7 linked regions of the Homo sapiens genome follow. The protein of the gene in region 1 purifies or fractionates together with the protein of each later gene. This does not show direct contact. Each region holds a gene or a part of one and is shown in the gene's direction. Other genes may lie near its edges. The genes, in order: SLC25A32, SERPINB2, AKR1A1, COX15, TCEA1, ALDH7A1 and SPAG7.

Region 1 (4,171 bases):
CTTCTTTATATGTATACTGTTTAAAGAAAAACTAATATGTGAACATCCAAACCTTTAAAAATAAAGTAGAAGAGAATACTACCCATGTCTTTATATTACAAGTTTTTAACCCCATATTTTAAAAATGTGATTTGTGCAAAATTAAATGAATTTGCTTAAAGTGCTGTAATGAGAGAGAAGAGAAAGTATTTTACTTAAATATATTGTTCTTCAAACGTATGTTGTTTTGCTTTTTAAAAATCATTCCCTTGTAGGGATTTGTTCCTGGGCTGTTTGGAACATCGCATGGTGCCCTTCAGTTTATGGCATATGAATTGCTGAAGTTGAAGTACAACCAGCATATCAATAGATTACCAGAAGCCCAGTTGGTAAGATTATTCTTGTAAAAATGATATCATTTCCTTTTATGGGTATTTAATAGGTAGAAATTTTTGTCATGCTTACTTTGGTGGTAGTGCTATGATGATGAGTACTGGCTCTGCCACTGATTTAATTTATAGTTAAATATTTATAGGCTGAAGCCACACAAATGTCAAAAATAGAATCCCTTAAAGATCCATTTAAATGTTTTTTGTATATAATTTTTACTTCTGTATTTTTAAAGAAATCCTGTCTAAAGAAAAAACTGTTTTGTATTGCCATTTTAGAGCACAGTAGAATATATATCTGTTGCAGCACTATCCAAAATATTTGCTGTCGCAGCAACATACCCATATCAAGTCGTAAGAGCTCGTCTTCAGGATCAACACATGTTTTACAGTGGTGTAATAGATGTAATCACAAAGACATGGAGGTGAGAGCACGTGCTATATCAAAAATTGCTTTGACAAGGTACCTTGCATATCTTAGACCATCCTGTTGATACTAGTTTTATAGCAAAGGCCAGTTTGCTGTGGTGAAAACATGATTGGTGGTCCCTGCTTTCCCAGTTATTACGTATGTGACCATGGCCTTAATCTCTCTGAGACTTAATTTCTTCATTTGTAAAGTAAGACTTTCTAACTAATAGGTTGTTATAAGAATCAAATTAAATGTGTGAAAATGTTTTGGAAAATAAAATTTAGGTGTTATAAAATATCTGAATGGTATTGAATATAAGAAGTCATAAGACTAGCTTAATACATTCAAGAAGGCTCCACACCTGCTACTGGCACCATAACTTTTGCAAATACTTGTTTCCATATATGAAAGAGATGTTTGTTCTTCAGTATGAGACTAGTTAAATTATTATAGGCAGACATCACCATATTTCCCTTTAATTCTAAAGGAACAGAGGAGAACATTTAGGATGTTTAAATTTAATTCAATTCAAGAAATATTTAATGAGCACCTAAGTGACAAATTTCTAGGCCGTATTCCATATTATTGGCATTAAGGAAATAAAGTTTTATATTTGTATGTGCTGTATTTAATGTTGGCTAGCATTTATCCAAGCTATGAGGTTTTTTAATGCCTACATTAGGTCAATTAAAACTCCTGCTTGTACATACATTTAAAAGCATTTGAAAGATAGCTAATTGAAAGCACTTTTTAGTTCAGTTTTGAGGTGTCCCTACCCTCTCTTACTCAGTCCATCCATAAAAGGAATGTAAATCCCTACAGATGGCTTATAAACTACATTACTTTAGGACATTGAAAACATGAACTTAAATCAGAGTAAGGTTTGACTGCTGCTTGCTCCATGCCTTGTGTCAGTTAGAACTTCCGTGTTTTCAAGCTAGCTCTATACAAAATTAAGCATTATCTATTTTTCCCTCTAAAGGAAAGAAGGCGTCGGTGGATTTTACAAGGGAATTGCTCCTAATTTGATTAGAGTGACTCCAGCCTGCTGTATTACCTTTGTGGTATATGAAAACGTCTCACATTTTTTACTTGACCTTAGAGAAAAGAGAAAGTAAGCTCAAAGAGGACAATTCCAGTATATCTGCCCAAGGCAGCAACAAGCTCTTTTGTGTTTAAGGCATAAAAGAAGAATTCTGCATAGAAACATGGCTCATATTCGAAATTGCTCTATAGTCATTAGAAGCCAGAGAACTGCTAAGTCTCCTGCAATGTTTTTCTTGCTTTTTGCCTTCCCCATATATATGGAACTTGGCTACCTCTGCCTGAAATGGCTGCCATCAACACAATGTTAAAACTGACACGAAGGATAGAGTTTCACAGATTTCTACGTTTTATTGGTGGAAGCTGATTTGCAACATTTGCTAAATGGATTAGATGAATGTACTTCTTTTTGTGAGCTTACTTGCCTGGATTGCTTTAAAATTAACCTTTGTGCAATACCAAGAAAATAGCTCTTTAAAAGAATGTCTTTGTATGTCTCAAGGTAAATTAAGGATTTACTGAATAAGGTGTTGACCAAATCCAGACCATTTTATTTTATTTTTTTATTTATTTATTTTTTGAGATGGAGTCTTGCTTTGTCGCCCAGGCTGGAGTGCAGTGGCGTGATCTCAGCTCACTGCAACCTCCACCTCCCGGGTTCACGCCATTCTCCTGCCTCAGCCTCCTGAGTAGCTGGGACTACAGGCACCTGCCACCACGCCTGGCTAACTTTTTTTTATATTTTGAGTAGAAATGGGGTTTCACCATGTTAGCCAGGATGGTCTCAATCTCCTGACCTTGTGATCCGCCTGCCTTGGCCTCCCAAAGTGCTGGGATTACAGGCGTGAGCCACTGCGCCTGGCCAGACCATTTTAGAATTGGGAAATTTTAGTGAGAAAAAATGCACTGTAAATATGCTTTAGTTTTAATTCAGTTGGGATGCACTACCTAGCGAAAATTGAGAAACTATATACTTCTCAGAGAAATATCTGACATCTATTGTCATTCCATTGCTATTTTTTTTCCCCAGAGACTTCCATAATTTAAAATAAAATCCTAGATCCAGTTCTTGTTTTTTGGCATAAATACTTAATCTATTTTAAATTTATAAAATCTGAGCTTCTAGGATCCAGCTGTGTCAACCTTTATTTAGCATATATAACTATAAATCACTTATTACAGATGCTAAATAGATCACCTTTTACAGATGCTGAAATGTTTGGGATATGTTTGTTGACAAGGTAAATGGAAATGAGAAACTTTATACTTCAGTTTTCAGATATATGGATCTAGATCCCAAATAAATGATTAATCTTCATTGGTTTCTCAAATTCAGGTTGAAATACAAATTAATAGCCTTTATTGATTTTACTTTTATGAGTCATTGTAGACATCTATAAATATAAAAGGGCCTGTACCCAAAGGATGCCAGAATACTAGTATTTTTATTTATCGTAAACATCCACGAGTGCTGTTGCACTACCATCTATTTGTTGTAAATAAAAGTGTTGTTTTCAAAGCCATCTTTAAATAGTTCTTTAAAAATAGGTCTTTTTTTTATATTTTGGAAAAGGCATTGTTTTTAAAGTAAAGATAAAATGGTAAGTACCTAATTGTATTTACTGTAATATCTTATAACATGCAGATGAATGCTTTATAAGTTAAATATGATGTATTTTTTCATACTTCTGGATTATACTATAATTCATATGAAATCTTGATATTAGTCCCCACACGGAAAAAGTGAACTGCAGTTGATATTTGGTGTTTAAGATAGCACCATTGTTTAAATACCGCCTATGTACTCCCAAATGAATAAAACATAATTCTTGTCCTCTGAGAGCATACAAGCTTGTGTGATAGATAAATATGCATTAAATAATTACAGCTATAGATTAAGAACTCGTAAGGAATATCTCACAAAGCCTGGTAAGAGTTCTGACAGAAGAGAACTCAATTTCAGTCATTCAACAACAAATAGTCACTCAACTCCTGCTCTTTGGCAGGTACGTCACCAAGCACTGAGGATATAGCAATAAATAAGCCAGACAATATTCCTGCCCTCAGGGAATTTTCATCTTGGTGTAAGTGACAGAAAAGGAAATATATGCATAATGTAATTTCAGGTATTTAATGCTATAAATAAAACTACAGCAGAACGGGGGAATAGTGTTGCTATCTTAGGTAGTATGGTTGGGGTCAGGAAAGGTCTCTGAGATAGTATTTGGAACATTTTGAAAGAAGTGAGGAAGCGAGCCACAGTGAGAGGAAACACATTCTAGGCAGAGAGGACAGGAAGTAAAAAGGGCCTGAGGGAGGAATTAAGTTGGCTAGAGGGGATGGGTGA
Region 2 (4,028 bases), on another chromosome or scaffold:
AGCTTACCAGCATTGTAACGTTGGGAAGACTGCTAACCTGGTGGTGTCCTTTTGCATAAAATGACACTAATAAAACCCACCTAATAGAGTATCAAAATAATATATTTTGATGCTTGGAATACTGCAGAGCGAGTACTAACTATAAACAAACTGCTTCTTAAACCAATTTCATTTTTTTAAATGACCACACTCATTTGTCATTGTTTCTGTCAATCTTCTCGGGCTTACTCCTTCACTCCCTTCTCTGTATGATCATAGTACTCAATATATTATTTAGCTCAATTACAGAAGTTATCACACAGGGTTTCACAACTGATTTTGAATGTCTCCCCCAGTGTTCTAGGCTCATCCAGGATAATTCTTCCTTTCTCATCTCTTGTATCTGCACTACTCTTAATTTAGGTCTAGTATATTTTTTACAAAACGTTTTTGAATAAATGAGTAAGTCAGATCCTCAGACTATCTAGACCAGATCTAGCAGTACATGATATATTTTGGAAAGGCACTATTATATTCCCTAAGAACCTCTCTTTCACTTCCCTCTGATTTGAATAACTTTCAACTGCCAAGCTTTGAGAAAAGAATATAAAAGGGAGTGAAAATCTCCATTCCAAACTTGATAGGCGGTCTAAATTTTAAATGCATTATTTCTTCATTTTTTCTTGGATTTTGCAAGCTTTTGGGAAATTTGTTTCAATTTTAATTTTGCTTTAAATAAACCTAAAAAACTTTAGCTTGAAGATTAACAACTCTGCAATTTGAAGAATTTAGTTTGATGGCTACTCAGAAGATTCAGTAAGTAATTTCACAGTTCTTGATTATGAAACCTAAATATATGTTATGTTTTCTGTAGGCAAAATCCCAAACTTGTTACCTGAAGGTTCTGTAGATGGGGATACCAGGATGGTCCTGGTGAATGCTGTCTACTTCAAAGGAAAGTGGAAAACTCCATTTGAGAAGAAACTAAATGGGCTTTATCCTTTCCGTGTAAACTCGGTATGAGACAACAAAATACATCTTCCTAGCATATATTTTAGGGCTTTTGACAAGATATAGACAGAAAAATTAGAGACCGCTCATTATAGACTTGCTAGTTAGAAGTTATGCATGTTGGACAGTTGATTGACTCTTTAGAAACAGTATAGGTAAAGGGGAAGACTGTGGCTTTTTAATTATACATGCCCAGACTCCAACGTTGGCTCTACCACTTATTTCAAAGGGCTGTAAATATTGAGACATGGCACGGTTCCTGGCCCATAGTAAGAACTAAACAAGTGTTTTAGAATTATGGTTGTCATTACCATTGTTGTCCATCTTACTAAATAATGGGTATAAAGTTGAACAAGCTAATAACATCAGAGTACCCACTGTAAGGATGTACAAATAATTTATTTTGTTGATTTAAAAAAATCACATTTATCCTACACTAAAGTAGAACCAATCCTCCTTTATGTCTAATTGTAAATCTCTTGATATCTTATAATCGACTTCCATATTTTACCTTTTAATAATATTAGGCTCAGCGCACACCTGTACAGATGATGTACTTGCGTGAAAAGCTAAACATTGGATACATAGAAGACCTAAAGGCTCAGATTCTAGAACTCCCATATGCTGGAGATGTTAGCATGTTCTTGTTGCTTCCAGATGAAATTGCCGATGTGTCCACTGGCTTGGAGCTGGTAAGACATTCAGATATTTAAGTTTCTGGGGCTATACCTACCTTTCGTGAGATGAGATGAATATATACTCCTTACAAATGGTGTGGTAATTTCTCATGGAAATATATGAAACAGTTGATAGTAAATATGGCATGCCTCTACATTTCATTCAAAGCCTTAACTATGTCATACGTGTTACCTTCTTGTAAAAATCTGACCAATCTGTTAACTTTCTATATCACCCACAATATAGTAAAGTCACTGATTTTTAATATTAGACTTAAAGTTGTTTTCCTTCTTTCTAATACTTGCTGTATTTTCTTTTGTTTGTTTTGTTTTGTTTTGCTTTGCAGCTGGAAAGTGAAATAACCTATGACAAACTCAACAAGTGGACCAGCAAAGACAAAATGGCTGAAGATGAAGTTGAGGTATACATACCCCAGTTCAAATTAGAAGAGCATTATGAACTCAGATCCATTCTGAGAAGCATGGGCATGGAGGACGCCTTCAACAAGGGACGGGCCAATTTCTCAGGGATGTCGGAGAGGAATGACCTGTTTCTTTCTGAAGTGTTCCACCAAGCCATGGTGGATGTGAATGAGGAGGGCACTGAAGCAGCCGCTGGCACAGGAGGTGTTATGACAGGGAGAACTGGACATGGAGGCCCACAGTTTGTGGCAGATCATCCTTTTCTTTTTCTTATTATGCATAAGATAACCAACTGCATTTTATTTTTCGGCAGATTTTCCTCACCCTAAAACTAAGCGTGCTGCTTCTGCAAAAGATTTTTGTAGATGAGCTGTGTGCCTCAGAATTGCTATTTCAAATTGCCAAAAATTTAGAGATGTTTTCTACATATTTCTGCTCTTCTGAACAACTTCTGCTACCCACTAAATAAAAACACAGAAATAATTAGACAATTGTCTATTATAACATGACAACCCTATTAATCATTTGGTCTTCTAAAATGGGATCATGCCCATTTAGATTTTCCTTACTATCAGTTTATTTTTATAACATTAACTTTTACTTTGTTATTTATTATTTTATATAATGGTGAGTTTTTAAATTATTGCTCACTGCCTATTTAATGTAGCTAATAAAGTTATAGAAGCAGATGATCTGTTAATTTCCTATCTAATAAATGCCTTTAATTGTTCTCATAATGAAGAATAAGTAGGTATCCCTCCATGCCCTTCTGTAATAAATATCTGGAAAAAACATTAAACAATAGGCAAATATATGTTATGTGCATTTCTAGAAATACATAACACATATATATGTCTGTATCTTATATTCAATTGCAAGTATATAATAAATAAACCTGCTTCCAAACAACAATACATTTGTTGTCATTTCATTAGGTCTGCAGATCATAGACCTTGACTCCTAGGAGTTGAGCATTATGACTCACTTGTGAGAACTCAGAAAAAATAGACAGGATGAAGGAGCCAAGGACATAACAACCTTCATTCAAAAAGACCCAATGTTGAGGGTCAGTGGGATGGGGTTGTATGAAAAATGGGTTAGAGCTGCTTTCTCACAGCAGCAAAGACATAGCAATTCAGAATAGTCTAGGTTAGAGTCCTTTGGGGAAACCACTGTCTAAACATTAAGGACACCAGGATTAATGACCAAGTCCAGTGGTCCAGACACAGAAGAAGGCCTCAGTCATTGAGCTCAGAGTTGCAAGCAGTGAAGATGGGAGATGGGTTGGGTGCAAGAGCAGGAGGGGAAACATAAGATGGCTCTTTCTAAGTGTGTTTGTTTCTAATAGCAGTAATGCTTTTGAATGAGTCAGAGGCAGAGGAGAACATAATTGAAGACCTGAGAAATAAGGCAAATTGTAGGTTGGGGGCCTGAACAACAGAGTCTGGCTGCAGAAGTGCGGCTGGATCCTGGAAATGCAGCACACTCCCTTTGATGGCAGGCAGGGATGCTTGATGCACTAGAACATGGTAGCTAAAAAAGTGGCCTCAAGACTTAGACTCTCTGCCTCCAAATCCCAGTTGTAACACTTACAAGTAGCTTCAACACAGGCCAACCATGGTGCTTCTTTGTGCTTCAGTTTTCTCTCAGTGAAAACTAAAGAAAAAACTGTTTTTATCATATTGCTATAATGACTAAATGAGTTCATATATATCCAGCAATTAAAAGAATACTTGGCATATATAATATTTAATAAATATTAGTGATTATGATCTATCTTATCTTTGTCAGTAATAAAACTGTCTCACTCTAAGCTGGTCAAACACGAATCCCAGAAAATTACTCAGTTAACTTTTTAAGGCTTGAATAATGGTGTATTTCTTCTAATCAGACATTCCTGAAAATTAAGAGTTGCTGTTTCTTGCATTCTTCTACTTA
Region 3 (4,186 bases), on another chromosome or scaffold:
AGTTTCAGAGAAGCCCCAGCAGAGAGAACAGATTCTTCTATCTGGGATTTAGACTGATGTTTGTGGTGTGCTTGGATGACCTGTGTCTCTTTTCCCTTTTGCTTTCTTTCCTATAGCTGCCAAGGAGCCTGGAGCCAGGGTCCCTGTGCTTTAGGCAGGCACTTCTCACAGCCTCGGAGAAGTCCAGGAGCTAGGTCAAGGCAGAGGGTTGGGGGCCACAGACAAGGCCAAGGCGGGGCATGGAACAGCAGGGGTCAGATGTTAGGGGAAGTACGTCGGCACCCGGGTGGGGATCTTGAATACTATGTCAGGCACCCACAACAAGAGCTTTGGGTGCTTTGTGTCTAGGGCCGGGTACCCTTGTTTCTGCTGCTGATGCCGTGTTTCCAGTCTGGATTTTAGCAAAATTAACTGACCCATCCTTCTATCTGATGCCTGTTTTCTTCTCTCTCATTAGGGAGTTCTGGGTCCAGCTTTTAGCCCACTTATCTGCCTCCAGCTTTCAGCCTACTTATCTGCCTTCCTTAATCTTTTCCCCCTTCTAACCTCTTTTGCTGGCCTGTGCTCCCAGAGTTCCCAGAGTCTGTCTACACAACTCCCTGTATGTCCTTGGCCTAGGAATTTTTTCCTGTGTTTCTCTAACCAGCTCCTTAGAACCTGGAACTTGTTTCCATGGTCTATACTTCTTTTCTCTATTTATCCATCTGTCTTCTGATTGAAAAAAAAAATTATTTATTTTTGAAAATTTTTAAATTTTTATTTATTTATTTATTTATTTAATTTTATTTTTGAGATGGAGTCTTGCTCTGTCGCCCAGGCTGGAGTGCAGTGGCGCAATCTCGCCTCACTGCAAGCTCCGCCTCCTAGGTTCACACCATTCTCCTGCCTCAGCCTCCTGAGTAGCTGGGACTACAGGCACCCCCTACCACGCCCAGCTAATTTTTTGTATTTTTAGTAGAGACGGTGTTTCACCGTGTTAGCCAGGATGGTCTCGATCTCCTGACCTCATGATCCACCCACCTCAGCCTCCCAAAGTGCTGGGACTACAGGCGTGAGCCACCACACCCAGCCATTTTTTTTTTTTTTTTTTTTTTTTTGAGAAGGAGTTTCACTCTTGTTGCCCAGGCTGGAGTGCAATGGCATGATCTTGGCTCACTGTAACCTCCACCTCCCAGGTTCAAGCGATTCTCCTGCCTCAGCCTCCCAAGTACCCGGGATTATAGGCATGCACCACCACGCCCAGCTAATTTTGTATTTTTAGTAGAGACGGGGTTTCTCCGTGTTGGTTAGGCTGGTCTCAAACTCCCGACCTCAGGTGATCCACCCACCTCGGCCTCCCAAAGTGCTGGGATTACAGGTGTGAGCCACCGCGCCTGGCTTTTATTTAAAAAAAAAAATTTGTTTTCAATTTTTTGTTGTTATTTTTTTTGTGTTTTTTTGAGACGGAGTCTCACTCTGTCTCGCCCAGGATGAAGTGCAGTGGCATGATCTCAGCTCACTGCAGCCTCCCCCGCCTGGGTTCAAGCGATTCTCCTATCTCAGCCTCCTGAGTAGCTGGGACTACAGGCATATGCCACCATGCACAGCTAATTTTTGTATTTTTAGTAGAGAAAAGAATTTCACCATGTTGGCCAGGCTGGTCTCAAACCCCTGACCTCAGGTGATTCACCTGCCTCTTCTTCCCAAAGTGCTGGGATTATAGGCGTGAGCCACCACGCCTGGCCTTAATTTTTTTTTTTTTTTTAAAGAGGTGGGGGTCTCACTATGTTGACTAGGCTGGTCTTGAACTTCTGCCTTCAAGCAATGCTCCCATGTCAGCCTCCCAGAGTCCTAGGATTACAGGCGTGAGCCACTGTGCTCAGCCTGAAAAAATATTTACTGAAGCCCTCTTTATGGTAGATGCCGGGAAAATATTGTTAGTTTTTGCTAGACCTTGCTGAGATGGCTTGGGTAGGAAGGCATCTTAGAGACTGGTTGGGGTGGGAGCAGAGCAAAGGGTTTGGAGCCTCTGAAGAGGCTTCTGGTCCCTTAGACTGAAACCATCTTCCATCTTTTTTTTTTTCTTTCTTTGTTTTGAGATGGAGTTTCGCTCTTGTTGCCGAGGCTGAAGTGCAGTGGCACAATCTCAGCTCACTGCAACCTCTGCCTCCTGGGTTCAAGTGATTCTCCTGCCTCAGCCTCCTGAGTAGCTGGGATTACAGGCACCTGCCACCACACCTGGCTAATTTTGTATTTTTAGCAGAGATGGGGTTTCACCATGTTGGCCAGGCTGACCTCCAGCTGGCCAGGCTGGTCTCGAACTCCTGACCTCAGGGGATCTGCCCACCTCAGCCTCCCAAAGTGCTGGGATTACAGGCGTGAGCCACCGCGCCCAGTTCATCTTCCATCTTTTCACCTCCACTGCATAGATGTGCCTGTTATATTTCTGAGCCCCCTTCCCCCAGCATTGACCTTGGGGTGGTGACAGTAGAAGGCTGAAACCAACATAGCTGAAACCTCTGCTTCTCTCACCTGGCAGGTAAAAGCAGCTGTTAAGTATGCCCTTAGCGTAGGCTACCGCCACATTGATTGTGCTGCTATCTACGGCAATGAGCCTGAGATTGGGGAGGCCCTGAAGGAGGACGTGGGACCAGGCAAGGTAAGGACTGGGGTTGTAAATAGAGGTGGGATAAGAGAACTTAGAAGCTGAAGCTAGGGCTGGGGCCCAGCTGGAGGGAATCTGGCATCAGCTTCCTTCCAGTTCCTCTCCCAGAGTTGAGGGTGGGTGAGACCACGTGCTCATGGCTCTTCTCACTGTGGGCCCTGCCCCCTGCACTAGGCGGTGCCTCGGGAGGAGCTGTTTGTGACATCCAAGCTGTGGAACACCAAGCACCACCCCGAGGATGTGGAGCCTGCCCTCCGGAAGACTCTGGCTGACCTCCAGCTGGAGTATCTGGACCTGTACCTGATGCACTGGCCTTATGCCTTTGAGTGAGCCTTGCCAGAGCCTCATCTGGGGAATCAGGGGGTTGAGCAGGATGGTGTTAGTAACTTATTGTAAGTCACAGCAGCAGAGCAGGATAGGAACACTCATTTGCATGCCAAGCTGAGGAGCTTGACATGGGATCTTAGCCTCTTCTGCTACAGCAGCTTAGCTGTAGCTACAGGAGTTTAACTCTGGAAAAAGGAAGGCAGTCTCACATGGTGTGTACCCCAGGGTATGCACCTGTAACCCTCCTGCTCCCTTTATTCATTTAGAAAAGGTGCTGACTTTTCTGTTGAGCACCTGGGGTTACAGTAATAAGTAAGTCTCAGCAGAAGATGTGAGAAGAGCTCACCATTAGTGCCGTGCCCTGTGCTGGAAGAAGGGTGGATAACTCCCTGAGGATGAGTTAAGGAAGACTTCCTAGGGGAGAGGAGATATCTACGTCTAGGAAGAGGAGGGGGCATAGGCATTCCATGTAAACTTAACACCTGGGTTACGATCTGGAAGGATGAAAAAGCATGGCTTTTTTTGGCCAGGCGCGGTGGCTCACGCCTGTAATCCCAGCACTTTGGGAGGCTAAGGCGGGCGGATCACGAGGTCAGGAGATCGAGATCATCCTGGCTAACACGGTGAAACCCCGTCTCTACTAAAAATACAAAAAATTAGCTGCGCGTGGTGGTGAGCGCCTGTAGTCCCAGCTACTGGGGAGGCTGAGGCAGGAGAATGGCGTGAACCCAGGAGGTGGAGCTTGCAGTGAGCTGAGATAGTGCCACTGCACTCCAGCCTGGGCGGTAAAGCGAGACTCCATCTCAAAAAAAAAAAAAAAGAAAAAGCATGGCTTTTTAAAAATTCTTGGCCCTTTGTCCTCTCTGGGATTGGAGTTTGGGACATAGAGTGGCTGGATGGGCAGGTAGGGTAGAAGCCTGGCATTTGTGTCCACACTTGGTGGGGCTGTCTCTCACTCAGGCGGGGAGACAACCCCTTCCCCAAGAATGCTGATGGGACTATATGCTACGACTCCACCCACTACAAGGAGACTTGGAAGGCTCTGGAGGCACTGGTGGCTAAGGGGCTGGTGCAGGCGCTGGGCCTGTCCAACTTCAACAGTCGGCAGATTGATGACATACTCAGTGTGGCCTCCGTGCGTCCAGCTGTCTTGCAGGTAAGGACAGCAAGCAGATGAGTGGTTTAGGGGTTGTCTGCTCAAGAGCATGAGGGAGC
Region 4 (4,186 bases), on another chromosome or scaffold:
AGTTAGAAGGGATTAAGGCCGGGTGCAGTGGCTCACACCTGTAATCCCAACACTTTCGGAAGCCAAGGTGGGGGATCAGGAGTTCCAGACCAGCCTGGCCAACATGGTAAAACCCTGTCTCTACCTAAAATACCAAAATTAGCTGGGCATGCTGGCGTGGGCCTGTAGTCCCAGCTATTTCGGAGGCTGAGGCAGAAGAATTGATTGAACCGGGGAGGCGGAGGTTGCAGCGAGCTGAGAGGTTGCACCACTGCACTCCAGCCTGGGCAACAGAGCAAGACTCTGGCTCAAAAAAAATAAATAAAGAAAGAAGGGATTAAGGAGGGAGATGAGAGAGAAGAAATAGAGGCAGCAGAAACAATAATCAAAGTCTAATAGTAACCAGAGAAAGGCATGTAGAACAAAATGAAAGTTAACATTTTAGAATTAGAAAAACAAGCCAACACTGAAAACACTATTAGGGAGGCAGAAATTAAAGATGTCAGATAAGGTATGGGAGAAGAAAGTGGGCTAGTGAATCAACTGTGTACGTCTTCATCTTTCAATGTCTCTTGCAGATGAAATCAAGGTAATTAGAATATCCAGGGTAATCTTGAAAGGGGAGAGAAATGCCCAAAAAGATTTCCTGAAGAGTATATATTTAGAAGTGGCAGAGTCCACCTCTTTGACCTGATTCTACTGGCAAGTGGGAGTGAAAGGGCTGTCTTATTTCATATGATTGGAACTAACAATTGTTTGGTTAATTGAAAAAGCCAGTTAAAGCAGAGAATCATAGAATATGATACATAACATAAACTTTTAAACTTAAATCTGTACGTTCATTACCAACTTTTACAAAATCAAGGCCTTTTCTTTGACTATGCGTCCCCAGATTGGCATTCAACTGCAGGTTTCTTATATCCCCATAAACTGTGGTTTTGCTTAAAGCGGAGTGGGAACTTAGATATTTGCAAAGCGATCTGCATGCAAAACCTTATTGATTTTTATGATTTTCCCCTGAAACTTTTATAATTGTCTTATTCCAACCTAACTTGACAGTAGATGTTTTTAAGCATTTACCTTTATTAAGTTTCTCCAAAACATTCAATCTAGTTTTATGAGATATATCCATGGACCTTTTTTTTTTTTTAAAGCTCATCAGCTACTGTTAGTGTTAGTGTATTTTATGCATGGCCCAAGACAATTCTTCCAGTGTGGCCCAGGGAAGCCAAAAGATCAGACACTTCTGATCTAAATAGTAGTTAAGTATTAATGGTGATATGTGAAGAACTGTGGATAAATCATGAATCTTGGGACACTGCGTATTGGGGAGGGTATGGAAAGAGGAGGGGTGGGGTAGAGAGTACTCCTGATAGCTCATTTCCTCAGTAAAGTTGAACAGATCAGGCCGGGTGTGGTGGCTTACGCCTGTAATACCAGCACTTTGGTAGGCTGAGGTGGGCGGATCACGAGGTCAAGAGATTGACACCATCTGGCCAACATGGTGAAACCCCATCTCTACTAAAAATACAAAAATTAGCCAGGCGTGGTGATGCGCAACTGTAGTCCCAGCCACTTGGGAGGCTGAGGCAGGAGAATCACTTGAACCTGGGAGGCGGAGATTGCAGTGAGCCAAGATCCCGCCACTGCACTCCAGCCTGGTGACAGAGTGAGACTCTGTCTCAAAAAAACAACAAAAAAAAGAAAGTTGAACAGATCATTTTAACCTTGTTTTGTTTGCTTCATCTCTTGGGGGTTCTAGGGTCTGTTGGGATGGTATATGGTGAAAAGTGGACTAGAAGAAAAATCAGACTCCCATGACATCCCTCGGGTCAGTCAGTACCGCCTTGCTGCCCACCTGGGATCAGCCCTGGTTCTTTATTGTGCCAGCTTGTGGACCTCACTGTCACTGCTACTCCCTCCGCACAAGGTAAGAGTTGTGTGCAAATATCTGTGTTCAAGACCCCGCTTTTGGTTCTTTTGGATATATATCTAGAAGTAGAATTGCTGGATCATATAGGAGTTGAATATTTTGCCAACATTTTCTATTGGCAAAGGTGAAACAAATTGAAAAATAGAGTGGGAGGGAGTACCAACAACAAGAAATATCCCAGTCGCTTTACCTCTGACTCCTAGAAGGGATGGTGGATGGCAAAGTGAGAAAGATCAGAACAGAGGTGTTTCTGAACTTCTGGTGTGGACAAGAGCTATATTGTTCGTTAAATGGGGACCTGCCAGTTAAGTCTAATAGTAAACCTTAGTGATTTTGTCTGAAGTATTTTTCTGTCTGCTGATTAAAGCAAAGTACTAGTTTTTCATTTTATGCTTTGATTTAAAAGCAAGGTATAACATTTTTTTGAGGCCTTCATTAATAATAGAGGTTCCAAGACACCACACCCTTATAGGACATTTTTTTCCCTAGAATTTTTTTTTAAATGAGTCTTGGCCAGGCGCGGTGGCTCACGCCTGTAATCCCAGCACTTTGGGAGGCAGAGGCAGGCAGATCACCTGAGGTTGGGAGTTTGAGACCAGCCTGACCAACCTGGAGAAACCCCATCTCTACTAAAAATATAAAATTAGCCAGCCATGGTGGCACATGCCTGTAATCCCAGCTACTCGAGAGGCTGAGGCAGGAGAATTGCTTGAATCCGGGAGGCAGAGGTTGCAGTGAGCTGAGATGGCACCATTGCAGTCTAGCCTGGGCAACAAGAGCGAAATTCCATCTCCAAAAAAAAAAAAAGAGTCTTATATTAGGTATTGAAATCATGGGTTGACCTGAGTAAGCTGTTCCTGGAGAAAAGTTTGAGATGACAGCAGGACTCTTAAGTCGAATCATCCATTAGGTACTTGGAGCTAGTAGCTAGATCCCAGTAAGGACTGGACGTGTTGTCTTGGCAGTCATTCCCACAGAGAAGCCAAATTGGGTTGAAATATTGATACAGTAGACAACCACTGAATAATTCCACATCTGAAAAATAAGGAATTATTTGAAAGTCTCCTGACTTTCAAAGCCAAACTTCATTTATTTACTTATGTATTTATTTATTTATTTGAGATGGAGTCTTGCTCTGTTGCCCAGGCTGGAGTGCAGTGGTGTGACCTTGGCTCACTGCAACCTCCACCTCCCGGGTTCAAGCAATTCTTCAGCCTCAGCCTCCCGAGTAGCTGGGACTACAGGCGCACACCACCATGCTCGGCTAATTTTCTGTATTTTTAGTAGAGACAGGGTTTCACCATGTTGGCCAGGCTGCTCTTAAACTCCTGACCTCAGGTGATCCACCCGCCTCGGCCTCCCAAAGTTCTGGGATTACAGGTGTGAGCCACCGTGCCCATCAAAGCCAAACTTCTAAAATGAATTCATTTTAATTCAGACTTCTAAAATGAATTCATCTTAATGAATTCATTTTGCCTGCATCTATAGCTGCTGCTTCCTGACAATCTATTCCTTCTTTTCAGTCCCTGTAATTATCTTCCTCACCCAACCCAATACATACACACTCACACATTTACCCACACTTACACATAAACCCACACACTCTTGCTACTGAAATTGTACTCTTAAAGGTTACTGATGACTTTATCAATTGTTTTTCTCTGTTAGTTTAGATTCACCTAATTACAAAAAGGATTTGAGATGCTACCCAATGAGCCATATAGTGCTATGCTGTCCAACACAGTAGCTACTAGCTACATATGGCTATTTAAATTTTAACTAATTAAGGCTGGGCACGGTGGCTCACACCTGTAATCCCAGCACTTTGGGAGGCTGAGGCGGGTGGATCATTTGAGGTCAGGAGTTTGAGACCAGCCTGGCCAACATAGTGAAACCCCCATCTCTACTAAAAGTTAAAAAATTAGCTGGGCAATAGTGGCGCGCACCTGTAATCCCAGCTACTTGGGAGGCTGAGGCAGGAGAATCGCTTGAGCCTGGGAGGTGGAGGTTGCAGTGAGCCAAGATTGTGCCACTGCACTCCAGTCTGGGCGACAAAGTGAGAAAAAAAATTTTTTTAATTAAATAAAATTTATTTACATAAGCTTTTTGTTTATTTAAACTTTATATTTAAATAAAATTAATTTTTTATTTAATTTTCAGTCATACTAGCCACATGTTTCAAGCTCTCCTTAGGTAGATGATAGAACTTTTCCATCACAGAAAGTTCTATTGGACAGTGCTGATATACTGTCCTATAATATGTTAGTAATGATA
Region 5 (4,186 bases), about 49 Mb from region 1:
GCTTCACCTTGCATTTTGTACTATGTTATGGAGACAGCTTCTTTCCTTAAACCTCATGAACCAGCTTCTGGTAGCCTCTTGACTTTTCTTCGGCAGCTTCCTCATCTCTCTCAGCATTAAAGAGTTAAGGCCTTTTTCTGGATTAGGCTTTGGCTTAAGGGAATGTTGTGGTTGGTTTGATCTTCTGTCTAGGCCACTAAAACGTTTTCATATCGGCAATAAGGCTATTTTGATCATTATTCATGTGTTCACTGGAGTAGCACTTTTAATTTCCATCAAGAAATTTTCCTTTGCATTCACAATTTGGCTAACTGGTGTAAGAGACCTAGCTTTTGGCTTATCCCAGCTTTCCATATGCCTTCCTCACTAAACTTAGTCTTATTTCTAGGTTTTGATTTAAAGTGAGACATGTTGACTCTTCCTTGTCCTTGAATACTTAGAGGCCATTGTAGGGTTATTAATTGGCCTGATTTCAATATTGTTGTGTCTCAGGGAGTAGGGAGGCCCAAGGAGAGGAAGAGAGACGGGGAAAGAGTGGAGCAGTCGGAACACACACAGCATTTGTCAAGCTTACTGTCCTATGTGGTCAAAGTTAGTGGTGCCCCTAAAACAGTGATAGTAACATAAGAAATTACTGATCACAGATTACCTAACAGATATAATAATAGTGAAAATGCTTGGAATATTGTGAGAATTACCAAGATGTGACACAGAGACATGAAATGAGCACATGCTTTTGGAAAAATAGCGCCAATAGATTTGCTCAACACAGCATTGCTGCAGACCTTCAATTTGTAAAAAATGCAGTAACTGCAAAGTGCAATAAAATGAAGCACAATAGCGCAGAGCAAGATAAAGCAAAGTATGACTGTAGCTGGTAAAAACTGGCGTGAGAAGATGACCCTGGCATATTCTATACATTTCTTGCCTCAAAACTGGAATCAGGCATTCCTCCAGAGATCCCTGACTTCTTTTGGGAGTGGGGTGTAGGCAATGCTATTAGAAACTATAATCTGGATACTAGAGGTACTCGTTGTAAGTTTACATTGTTCATAGTGTAATCACCTGACAGCTTCTTCCCGCCCACTACACAGACAAAACCAATTCACTGAGACTGCGCTATTGCGGTTAAGAAAGAGTTTTATTAATGCAAGGCTGGCCATGCAGGAGACGAAGTTATTACTCACATTAGTCTCCCTGAAGACTTGGAGGTTAGGGTTTTACAAGAATAGTTTGGTGGTAACTATTCCTAGGTGACTAGGGAATGGGTGCTGCTGATTGATTGGGGATGCAATCATAGGGATGTGGGAACTGGTCCTTCTGTACCTCTGGGTGAGGGGCCTGAGTTCTGGAGGGGTCAGTCTGAAAAACATCTCAAAAAACCAATCTCAGGTTCTACAATAATAATGTTACCTATAGGAGCAATTGGGGAAGTCACACACTTTGTGTCCTCTGGCCACATGACTCCTGAGCAGTGAGGGATTATAGAAACTATGTCTACATTTTAGCAGAGTTCAGGCCTGTCCCATAATCCTAATCCTCTGGCATTTCATTAGTCTTAACAAAGGTGATCTCAGGCTCTGAACAAGGAGGGATCGATTTTAGGGAAGGACTGTTACCATCTTTGCATCAAAGTTAAACTAAATTCCTTCCATGGTTAACTTGGCCTGTGCCCAGGAAAGAGGGAAGACAGCCAGCCTGTGACACTAGAAGCAAGATGGAGTCAGCCATGTTCAATTTCTCTCACTGTCATAATCTTTGCAAAGGTGGTTTTAGTAGCCTTTAAACAGTACTTAAATCCAATTTTCACATGTAAACTTTTAAGTATTTGAAGAAATTTTTAAAAGGAATTAAACTCTTACAAAGCCTTTGAGGAAAAATATTAATTTAATGCTTTTAAAACCTTAAAGGTTGATATGTGGTTTTATTATTATTAGGCTAATTGAGCATAAAAGCATTCAGGATATATATAGAAGGTGTCTATAACTGAGTGGTATTGCCCCCTACCTCATAGGAAATGGCTAGTGATGAGCTGAAAGAGATGCGGAAAAACTTGACCAAAGAAGCCATCAGAGAGCATCAGATGGCCAAGACTGGTGGGACCCAGACTGACTTGTTCACATGTGGCAAATGTAAAAAGAAGAATTGCACTTACACACAGGTTTGTGATTGTTTATAGATTCTTATTTTTATATAAAAATGCTTGCAACTCCTGTTTTAAAATAAATAGCAAAGATAATTACCAGTATGATAGTCCCTCACTTATCCATGGAGGGATATGTTCTAAGACCCTGAGTGGATGCCTGAAACCACGGATAGTACCTAACCCTATGTATACCACGTTTTTTCCGATACATATGTACTGATAAGTTTTATTTATAAATTAGGCATAGGAAGAGATTAACAATAATAACTTAATCAAATAGAATAATTATAACAAGATACTGTTATGAAAGTAATATGAGTGTAGTCTTTCTGTCTCTCACAGTGTCTTGCACTGTACTCACCCCTGTTCATTTGATGAGATGAGGCGAAGTGAATGATGTAGGCATTGTGACTAAGTGTTAGGCTGCTGTTGACCTTCTGATGATCCATCAGAAGGAGGCTCATCTGCTTCAGGTGGTCCTGCCTCATCGAGCCCTGATGATGTGGATGACTAATGGGTAGGTAGCATTACAGTGACACACACTGGACAAAGGGATGATCTGTATTCCAAGTGAGACAGAGTAGGATGGTACAGGCTGTCTTCATGCTACTCAGAACAATGTACAGTTTAAAACTGATGAATTGTTTATTTCTGGAATTTTTCATTTAATATTTTCAGACCATAGATAACTGAAACCATGGAAAGCAAAACCATGGATAACTGGGGACTAGTTCAAGAGGAGATAAGATTTCTTTCTTAAGTGTAAGAATGATTTTTTTTAAAAAAAATTATTATTATTTTTTTGCGGAGATGGGGTCTTGCTGCATTGTCCAGGCTGATCCCAAATTTCCAGACTCGAATGATCCTCTCACCTTGGCCTCCCGAAGTACTGGGAATACAGGCATGAGCCTCTGTGCCTTGTCAGAATGCTTTCTTAATACTGATTCTAGTTAACTAAAACCAAGTTGATATATTTATACTTTCACAGAAATAGTTACTATGAAAGCTATGTCAAAATTTATAAAATATAAGAATTAATAAAATGACCATGTTCTTTTTTAAAAGTTCATAAGCAATTGTATTGGTTACTAGGTAAATTGGCCATAATCCTTTTTATTTTGCAGGACTATATAATTTAAGGAAAGTTCTTCACGCTCCTCCACATGGCTTATGAGTACTTTAGGCTTAACTGTCTTCTGGATAATTTGTTCCTTTTTGTAATATTGATAACTTACATTTATGTACGATATGACTAGCCTTTTTATTCTTTAACAGCTGAAAACCGTGTTATAGTTATTTTGGTTGCATGTGCATATGTGAAAATTTTTTTTATCACTGTCTTAATTTCATTTGCCAAATAGGTTTTTGTGCTATGTTATCTGCTGTAAACTCAAGATTGTCTCCTTAAGGGACAACTTACTATGTTTCAGATAGTAGATTTGGGGAATTGATTTTTTCACCGATAGAACATTAAGCACTTAAAAAATAGCATCACTAAACTCTAAAGGGGCCTTTACTTAAAACAAATTTTGTTGGTAGTTATTTTTGTGGTTAAAAATTGAAAAAGTACAAAAGTTTATGAGTAGGAAATTCCATTCCCACTTTTGCCTGTGGCCACCTCGTTCTCCCTCCCTGAAAGTAAAGCAAGGTTACTAGTTTGTTGTGAAACTTAGGTATTTTATGTGTATACATGCAAATATTTTTGTTTTCCTTTTTCTTTGAGACAGAGTCTCACTCTATTGCCCAGGCTGGAGTGCAGTGGCGCCATCTCAGCTCACTGCAAACTCCGCCTCCCGGGTTCACGCCGTTCTCCTGCCTCAGCCTCCCGAGTAGCTGGGACTACAGGCACCCACCACAACGCCTGGCTAATTTTTTTGTATTTTTAGTAGAGACGGGGTTTCACTGTGTTAGCCAGGGTGGTCTCGATCTCCTGACCTCGTGATCTGCCTGTCTCAGCCTCCCAAAGTGCTGGGATTACAGGCGTGAGCCACCACGCCCAGCCTTTGTTTTCCTTTTTCTAAACACATATGGAAAATGTTA
Region 6 (3,844 bases), on another chromosome or scaffold:
CAATCTTGGCTCACGGCAACCTCCGCCTCCCAGGTTCAAGTGATTCTCCTGCTTCAGCCTCCCGAGTAGCTGGGATTACAGGTGCATGTCACCACACCCAGCTAATTTTTATATTTTTTGGTAGAGATGGGGTTTCCCATGTTAGCCAGGCTGGTCTCTAACTCCTGGCCTCAAGTGATCCACCCACCCTGGCCTCCTAAGGTGTTGGGATTACAGGCATGAACCACCACACTTGGCTCTGTTTGTTTTTGTGACAGGGTCTTGCTCTGCCACCTAGGCTGGAGTGCAGTGGTGCACGATCTCAGCTCACTGCACCCTCTTCCTCCTGGACTAAAGCAATCCTCCCACCTCAGGCTCCTGCGTCTTGCTCTGTTGCCCAGGCTGGAGTGCAGTGGCGTGATCTCAGCTCACTGCAACCTCGCCTCCCAGGTTCAAGCGATTCTCCTGTCTCAGCCTCCCGAGTAGCTGGGATTACAGGCACCCATTACCATGCCCAGCTAATTTTTGTATTTTTAGTAGAGAAGGGGTTTCACCATGTTGGCCAGGCTGGTCTGGAACTTCTGACTTCGTGATCCACTGTCCTTGGCCTCCCAAAGTGCTGGGATTACAGGCGTGAGCCACCGTGCCCAGCCAGAAATACACGTTTTAAAGAATGACAACAATGCTTGCTTTGGCAGCACATATACTAAAATTGGAAAGATACAGAGAAGATTAGCATGGCTTATGCACAATGATGATATGCAAATTCATATCCGTATTTTAAAAAGTATTCCATATTTTAAAAAAAGACAGCAGAAAATGCATGGGACATTTCTGGAAGGACATAGAAGAAACGGAGTCATGGTTGCTTTTGAATTGGGTCCTTAATATTTGTATGGAAAGGAAAATTCCTTTTCAAGTACAGTAGGAGACTTTGTATTCAGAGCAATTATAATCTATTTATTGGTTATTTTAAAAAGTCAGTTAAGGCAAGGAATAAAAAAATACATATCATAAGCATTAAAAAAGAAATTAACACATATTGCCAGGTGCAGTGGCTCACACCTGCAATCTCAGCACTTTGGGAGGCTGTGGTGGGAGGATTGCTTGAGGCCAGGAATTCAAGACCCACCTGGACAACATAGTGAGACCCTGTCTCAAAAAAAAATTAGCTGAGTATGGTGGCATGCACATGTAGTGCTAGCTACTTGGGAGGCTGAGGTGGGAGGATTGCTTGAGCCCACAAGTTCGAGGCTGCAATGAGTCATGATGATGTCACTGCACTGCAGCTTGGACAACAAAGCAAGACCAAATCAAAAACAAAAAACCAAATAATAAAAAAAAAAAATCAAAAACAAAAAACCCCCCACATATAAAGATTTGTTTGTGGCCGGGCATGTTGACTCACACCTGTAATCCCAGCACTCTGGGAGGCTGAGGCAGGTGGATCACTTGAGGTCAGAAGTTCAAGACCAGCCTGGCCAAAATGGTGAAACCTGGTCTCTACTAAAAATACAAAAAAAATTTAGCTGGGCATGGTGGTGCATGCCTGTAGTCCCAGTTACTTGGGAGGCTGAGGTGGGAGGATGGCTTGAACCCGGGAGACGGAGGTTGCAGTGAGCTGAGATCAAGCCATTGCACTACAGGCTGAGTGAAAATAACCGCTTGCAGCAGTGTTTGTTCAACATAACTTGGTTGTGTCACATGGCATGGCTCTCTATCCCTGCCTGACTCCTTATTTCCATTTTTCTCTGACCAACTAAGTTAGAACCAATATCAGGAAGAGAGAATTTTCTTTCATGATTGGAAGTTATTTTGGAGAAATAATTCACCTATAAATGATGCTAATTTTTTTCTTTATAAATGTAGGCAAAGATTGCATCCTCTGACCCCAAGTCCTAGAAAACAAAATGCTTTCATTCTTTTTATTTCATTTCTCTGCATTAGGTTATGGATCGCCCTGGAAATTATGTAGAACCGACAATTGTGACAGGTCTTGGCCACGATGCGTCCATTGCACACACAGAGACTTTTGCTCCGATTCTCTATGTCTTTAAATTCAAGGTAAAAATGCATTCTGTTCGCTAGCCTGATGTTGAAATAAATGATAAGAGGAAAATGATGGTGGATTAAATTTCACTGGATGAACCTTTAAGAGGGTTTTAGAAAGTAATCTGAATAGTAGATATATGAAGGTTCAGGATAAAATATGAGATAAACACTTTAAAACTCTATAGCATGCCAAGCTAGCTGCCAGGGAAACCAGATTGGGTAGTGGACCAGTGTTGGAGTTTATGAAGTGTGTGGTCCTCATTTCCTGTGTCATCTTAATCCTGGGCTGTGTAGGCCATAGAGTCACCTTCTCCTGAACCGTGGTACTGGATAGTTTGATAGCCTGAGTGCTGTGAACATGTCAGCAGACAAAATGAGAACATGTGGGGGTAATACAAAGACCTATAGTTGGCCAGGCACGGTGGCTCACACCTGTAATCCCAGCACTTTGGGAGGGTGAGGCAGGCAGATCACCTGAGGTCAGGAGTTCGAGACCAGCCTGGCCAACATGGTGAAACCCCGTCTCTACTAAAAAACAAAAAAATTAGCCAGGCGTGGTGTTGGGCGCCTGTAATCTGTAATACCAGCTACCTGAGAGGCTGAGGCAGGAGAATCACTTGAACCCAGGAGGCTGAGGTTGCAGTGAGCCGAGATCGCACCATTGCACTCCAGCCTGGGCAACAGAGTGAGACTCCATCTCAAAAAAAAAAAAGACCTATAGTTATAAACTCCAGCAGAGGACAGGCTGCGGAGTTTTGTTTTGTTTTCCCTGATCTCATATCTTGATCTCAAACTGTAAAGGTTTTAATAGGTGAAGAAGCTGGGCACAATGGCTCATGCTTGTAATCTCAGTGCTTTGGGAGGATCACTTGAGGCCAGGTGCTCAAGACCAGCCTGACCAACACAGTGAGACCTTGTCTGTACAAAAAAATTAAAAAATTAGCCAGGTGTTGTATGTACCTATAGTCCTAGCTACTCGGGAGGCTGAGGTGGGAAGAGATCCTGTCTCTAAAACAAACAAATAAATAAAACCCAAAAAACCCACACAGGTGGATAAATTAGAAGATCTCATTCCCTAGCTTGAGACGGGCCCTAGCCTCGCCAGTAAATATTTAGGATTAATTTTGAGACTGCAGAGATTGAATCAATATTTGAATGTACCATTATTAACAGTAAAATAATAGTGAGAATTGCATCTTGTTGCAATTACATCATTGCTTCTTTATTTCTTGCTTTAAATTGCCTATCATTGTTTCACGTATGGGGACTAGAGAATATAATTTTGTGTTTTGTAATGTGTTTGTGTACATTATGAGGCTGTGTGAGCTCTTGAGCAAATTAGTCTCTGTAGGCCTCAGTTGCCCAATCTGTAAATTGGGAGGTAGTAGGAAACCTGTGTTATAGGATGAGGATTAAATAACTAAATGCATGTTAAGTGCTTAGATTGGTGTGTTACACACGTAAGAGCTCAATAGATATTAGCTATTATATGTAGTAGCTTGAATGAAAGGAAGAATGTGTTAATATTTGTTTCTGATAATTAGGGGAAAAATCCCAAAATTTTTTACTTATTATCAATGATCTGAATTATAAGAGAAACAGAGTGAGTAAACTTGACTCTTTGGTTTCCTTTTGTACACTGAAATTATACTGGTACACTTCAGGAAATGAGTTTAATGTCAGTGAACTTTGACTTGAACACTATAACATCTTACAGCTTCCAATGTCTCTCCTTTTAGAATGAAGAAGAGGTCTTTGCATGGAATAATGAAGTAAAACAGGGACTTTCAAGTAGCATCTTTACCAAAGATCT
Region 7 (3,732 bases), on another chromosome or scaffold:
AAAATAAATAAATAAATAGATATTTGTTAATTGGTTTCCCCAGTGGAGTTGGGAAAGGGGGTTAAGCATTATTCTGATCTTTGTCACTCCCACTAAACTGGGAGCTCTTGAAGGGCCACATTGTGTCTTAATAATCTCAGTACTTCAGGGTCTCGCCTGGTGCCAGATACAGTAGTCCCTACTTCTCCCTTATCCAAGGTTTTGCTTTCCAAGGTTTTAGTTACCTGCAGTCCAGAACTGTTATATACAGTAAGATATTTTGAGAGAGAGAGAGAGCATAGCCACAAACTTTTATTTCAGTACATTGTTATAATTGTTCTATTGTATTATTGTTATTCTTAATCTCTTTTTTTTTTTTTTTTTTTTGAGATGGAGTCTTGCTGTGTCGCCCAGGCTGGAGTGCAGTGGCGCCATCTCTGCTCACTGCAAGCTCCGCCTCCCAGGTTCACGCCATTCTCCTGCCTCAGCCTCCCGAGTAGTGGGGACTACAGGCGCCCACCACCACACCCAGCTAATTTTTTGTATATTTTTTTTTTTTTAGTAGAGACAGGGTTTCACCGTGTTAGTCAGGATGGTCTCGATCTTCTGACCTCATGATCCATCCACCTTGGCCTCCCAAAGTGCTGGGATTACAGGTGTGAGCCACTGCACCCGGCCATCTCTTTTTTTTTTTTGAGACGGAGTTCACTCTTGTTGCCCAGGCTGGAGTGCAATGGCGCGATCTCAGCTCACTGCAATCTCTGCCTCCCAGGTTCAAGCGATTCTCCTGCCTCAGCCTCCCCAGTAGCTGGAATTATAGGCGCCCACCACCACACCCGGCTAATTTTTGTATTTTTAGTAGAGATGGGGTTTCACCATGTTGACCAGGCTGGTCTCGAACTCCTGACCCCAGGAGATCTGTCTGCCTCGGCCTCCCAAAGTGCTGGGATATAGGCGTGAGCCACCATGCCTGGTCTATTATTCTTAATCTCTTACTGTGCCTAATTTATAAATTAAACTTTATCATAGGCATGTATGTATAGAAAAAGACATAGTATGTATAGGGGTCAGTACTATCCACAATTTCAGGCATCCACTGAGGGTCTTGGAATGAACCCCTGTGGATAAGGGGGACTATTAGATAGAATAAACATCAATAAATGCTTGATGAATAAACGCTAATCCTACCTTCCCAGCCTGACACCTCCCAGTGGACACCACACTTCACTTGAAGCCTTAGAAACCTTTCCCACCCATGCTTCCAGCCCTGGCTTCATGTTGCCATTTCTCACCCCCAGAACAGGCCGCCCGCCTGAAGAAACTACAAGAGCAAGAGAAACAACAGAAAGTGGAGTTTCGTAAAAGGGTGAGAACAACTGGAGTGATCAAAGGCAGACTCAGGAAGGACTTCCAATAAGTTAAAATTGGAAGGTTGAGGACTCAGTTTTGCTGAAAATGTCTTGAGAGAGGTGACGCATGGAAGCCAGTGGCTTGGAGGCTGGGGAGGGTGCTGGGGAGGCGTAGAAGGGCCCAGGCTCAGCTAGGGAGAGGGGTACTTGGGTGGAGCCATTGTCTCATATCTGCTTCCTTTCCCCTCTCCCAAGATGGAGAAGGAGGTGTCAGATTTCATTCAAGACAGTGGGCAGATCAAGAAAAAGTTTCAGCCAATGAACAAGATCGAGAGGAGCATACTGTGAGTGTCCCTGGGCTGGGGGAGGAAGGAAATGGGTGGCTAGCGGGGCATGAAAGGGCCAGCGGGGGGCTCCTCCAGAGGAGGGCACTAGGCCCGCTCCTGGCTCAAGATGCTCTTTCCCCTCTGCCATCCCATCCCAGACATGATGTGGTGGAAGTGGCTGGCCTGACATCCTTCTCCTTTGGGGAAGATGATGACTGTCGCTATGTCATGATCTTCAAAAAGGTAAAGGGCCTGAATTCCTCATTCTCTCCTCTCCCCTTTGTAGCCTTATCCCCCCTCCCCGACCAAGGAATGAAATGAAACATTTGTATGGACTCTGACCCCATCATTCTGCTCTTCTTCAGGAGTTTGCACCCTCAGATGAAGAGCTAGACTCTTACCGTCGTGGAGAGGAATGGGACCCCCAGAAGGCTGAGGAGAAGCGGAAGCTGAAGGTGAGCTATGCTTTGCAGCCCTTGGGGTCCAGAAGCCCACCACCTGGGAGGGGTGGGGGTTTGGGCTGGGGCCCTGAGCACCAGTGCCCCCACTTTCACCCCTAGGAGCTGGCCCAGAGGCAAGAGGAGGAGGCAGCCCAGCAGGGGCCTGTGGTGGTGAGCCCTGCCAGCGACTACAAGGACAAGTACAGCCACCTCATCGGCAAGGGAGCAGCCAAAGACGCAGCCCACATGCTACAGGCCAATAAGACCTACGGCTGTGGTGAGGCCACAGTGCGGCTGGGGGTGGCTGGGAGAGGAGCATAGGATGCGGCAGGAGGGCAGTGGAGGCTGAGGTACGGATTTCTAGGCCCGCCCTACCCTCCTCTCTGCCCCTAGTGCCCGTGGCCAATAAGAGGGACACACGCTCCATTGAAGAGGCTATGAATGAGATCAGAGCCAAGAAGCGTCTGCGGCAGAGTGGGGAAGAGTTGCCGCCAACCTCCTAGGCGCCCCGCCCAGCTCCCTTTGACCCCTGGGGCAGGGCAGGGGGCAGGGAGAGACAAGGCTGCTGCTATTAGAGCCCATCCTGGAGCCCCACCTCTGAACCACCTCCTACCAGCTGTCCCTCAGGCTGGGGGAAAACAGGTGTTTGATTTGTCACCGTTGGAGCTTGGATATGTGCGTGGCATGTGTGTGTGTGTGTGAGAGTGTGAATGCACAGGTGGGTATTTAATCTGTATTATTCCCCGTTCTTGGAATTTTCTTCCCCATGGGGCTGGGGTACTTTACATTCAATAAATACTGTTTAACCCAATGTCCTGGTTTGTTTATACACAGAAAGGTGGGTCCTGGAACCACTGGTAGAGAAGAAGGGGAATAATTTTCAGTTGAACAGCATAAAATTGCTGTTTGTGTAGGTTAAAGATGGCCAGTTGGAACTATCAGAGGTTTTTTGTTTGTTTGTTTGTTTTGAGACAGAGTCTTTCTCTGTTGCCCAGACTGGAGTGCAGTGGTGTGATCTCGGCTCACTGCAACCTCTGCCTCCAGGGTTCAAGCGATTCTCCTGCCTTAGCCTCCTGAGTAGCTGGGACTACAGGCATGTGTCACCACACCCGGGTAATTTTTTGTACATTTAGTAGAGATGGGGTTTCACCATATTGGCCAGGCTGGTCTCTAACTCCTAACCTCAGGTGATCCGCCCGCCTCAGCCTCCCAAAGTGCTGGGATTGCAAGAGTGAGCCACTGTGCCCGGCCCAGAGGGTTTTGTAAGATGCTGTATTTTAAGAGTGCAATCGGGCTGGGCATAGTGGCTCACACCTGTAATCCCAGCATTTTAGGAGGCCAAGGCTGGAGGATCACTTGAGGTCAGGAGGTCAAGATCAGCCTGGGCAACATAGTGAGACTTTCTCTCTACAAAATTAAAAAATTGGTTGAGCGCAGTGGCTCACACCTGCGATCCCAGCACTTTGGGAGGCCAAGGCAGGAGAATCGCTTGACTCCAGGAGTTTGAGATCAGTCTAGGCCACAAACCTTCTCTACAAAAAGAAAATAAAATATACAAAATTTAAAAATTAGCCATACCTGGTGGTGTGCACCTGTAGTCCCAGCTACTTTGCAGGCTGAGGCAAGAGAATTGCTTGA

Evidence for each region.
Region 2: the proteins of SLC25A32 (region 1) and SERPINB2 purify together in Homo sapiens (affinity purification with mass spectrometry; one large-scale study listed by BioGRID and IntAct). This does not show direct contact.
Region 3: the proteins of SLC25A32 (region 1) and AKR1A1 purify together in Homo sapiens (affinity purification with mass spectrometry; one large-scale study listed by BioGRID and IntAct). This does not show direct contact.
Region 4: the proteins of SLC25A32 (region 1) and COX15 purify together in Homo sapiens (affinity purification with mass spectrometry; one large-scale study listed by BioGRID and IntAct). This does not show direct contact.
Region 5: the proteins of SLC25A32 (region 1) and TCEA1 purify together in Homo sapiens (affinity purification with mass spectrometry; 2 studies listed by BioGRID and IntAct, with this or other methods). This does not show direct contact.
Region 6: the proteins of SLC25A32 (region 1) and ALDH7A1 purify together in Homo sapiens (affinity purification with mass spectrometry; one large-scale study listed by BioGRID and IntAct). This does not show direct contact.
Region 7: the proteins of SLC25A32 (region 1) and SPAG7 purify together in Homo sapiens (affinity purification with mass spectrometry; one large-scale study listed by BioGRID and IntAct). This does not show direct contact.

The regions. Positions count from the first base shown.
Region 1 is NC_000008.11:103,398,138-103,402,308, reverse strand, and holds the end of SLC25A32 (solute carrier family 25 member 32), read left to right. Parts: intron 1-254; coding exon 255-368; intron 369-647; coding exon 648-793; intron 794-1,762; coding exon 1,763-1,898; 3' UTR 1,899-3,671; downstream 3,672-4,171. UniProt on the Homo sapiens protein: Facilitates flavin adenine dinucleotide (FAD) translocation across the mitochondrial inner membrane into the mitochondrial matrix where it acts as a redox cofactor to assist flavoenzyme activities in fundamental metabolic processes including fatty acid beta-oxidation, amino acid and choline metabolism as well as mitochondrial electron transportation.
Region 2 is NC_000018.10:63,900,887-63,904,914, forward strand, and holds the end of SERPINB2 (plasminogen activator inhibitor 2), read left to right. Parts: intron 1-853; coding exon 854-996; intron 997-1,517; coding exon 1,518-1,682; intron 1,683-2,014; coding exon 2,015-2,419; 3' UTR 2,420-3,002; downstream 3,003-4,028. UniProt on the Homo sapiens protein: Inhibits urokinase-type plasminogen activator. The monocyte derived PAI-2 is distinct from the endothelial cell-derived PAI-1.
Region 3 is NC_000001.11:45,564,051-45,568,236, forward strand, and holds part of AKR1A1 (aldo-keto reductase family 1 member A1), read left to right. Parts: intron 1-2,518; coding exon 2,519-2,638; intron 2,639-2,818; coding exon 2,819-2,970; intron 2,971-3,931; coding exon 3,932-4,127; intron 4,128-4,186. UniProt on the Homo sapiens protein: Catalyzes the NADPH-dependent reduction of a wide variety of carbonyl-containing compounds to their corresponding alcohols.
Region 4 is NC_000010.11:99,721,679-99,725,864, reverse strand, and holds part of COX15 (heme A synthase COX15), read left to right. Parts: intron 1-1,741; coding exon 1,742-1,909; intron 1,910-4,186. UniProt on the Homo sapiens protein: Catalyzes the second reaction in the biosynthesis of heme A, a prosthetic group of mitochondrial cytochrome c oxidase (CcO). Heme A is synthesized from heme B by two sequential enzymatic reactions catalyzed by heme O synthase (HOS) and heme A synthase (HAS).
Region 5 is NC_000008.11:53,977,000-53,981,185, reverse strand, and holds part of TCEA1 (transcription elongation factor A protein 1), read left to right. Parts: intron 1-2,014; coding exon 2,015-2,161; intron 2,162-2,488; exon of another isoform or gene 2,489-2,663; intron 2,664-4,186. Other genes in the region: LYPLA1-TCEA1 readthrough, read left to right, coding at 2,015-2,161.
Region 6 is NC_000005.10:126,550,220-126,554,063, reverse strand, and holds part of ALDH7A1 (alpha-aminoadipic semialdehyde dehydrogenase isoform 1 precursor), read left to right. Parts: intron 1-665; exon of another isoform or gene 666-762; intron 763-1,926; coding exon 1,927-2,043; intron 2,044-3,770; coding exon 3,771-3,844.
Region 7 is NC_000017.11:4,958,399-4,962,130, reverse strand, and holds the end of SPAG7 (sperm-associated antigen 7), read left to right. Parts: intron 1-1,277; coding exon 1,278-1,345; intron 1,346-1,583; coding exon 1,584-1,672; intron 1,673-1,812; coding exon 1,813-1,897; intron 1,898-2,019; coding exon 2,020-2,109; intron 2,110-2,214; coding exon 2,215-2,371; intron 2,372-2,487; coding exon 2,488-2,597; 3' UTR 2,598-2,905; downstream 2,906-3,732.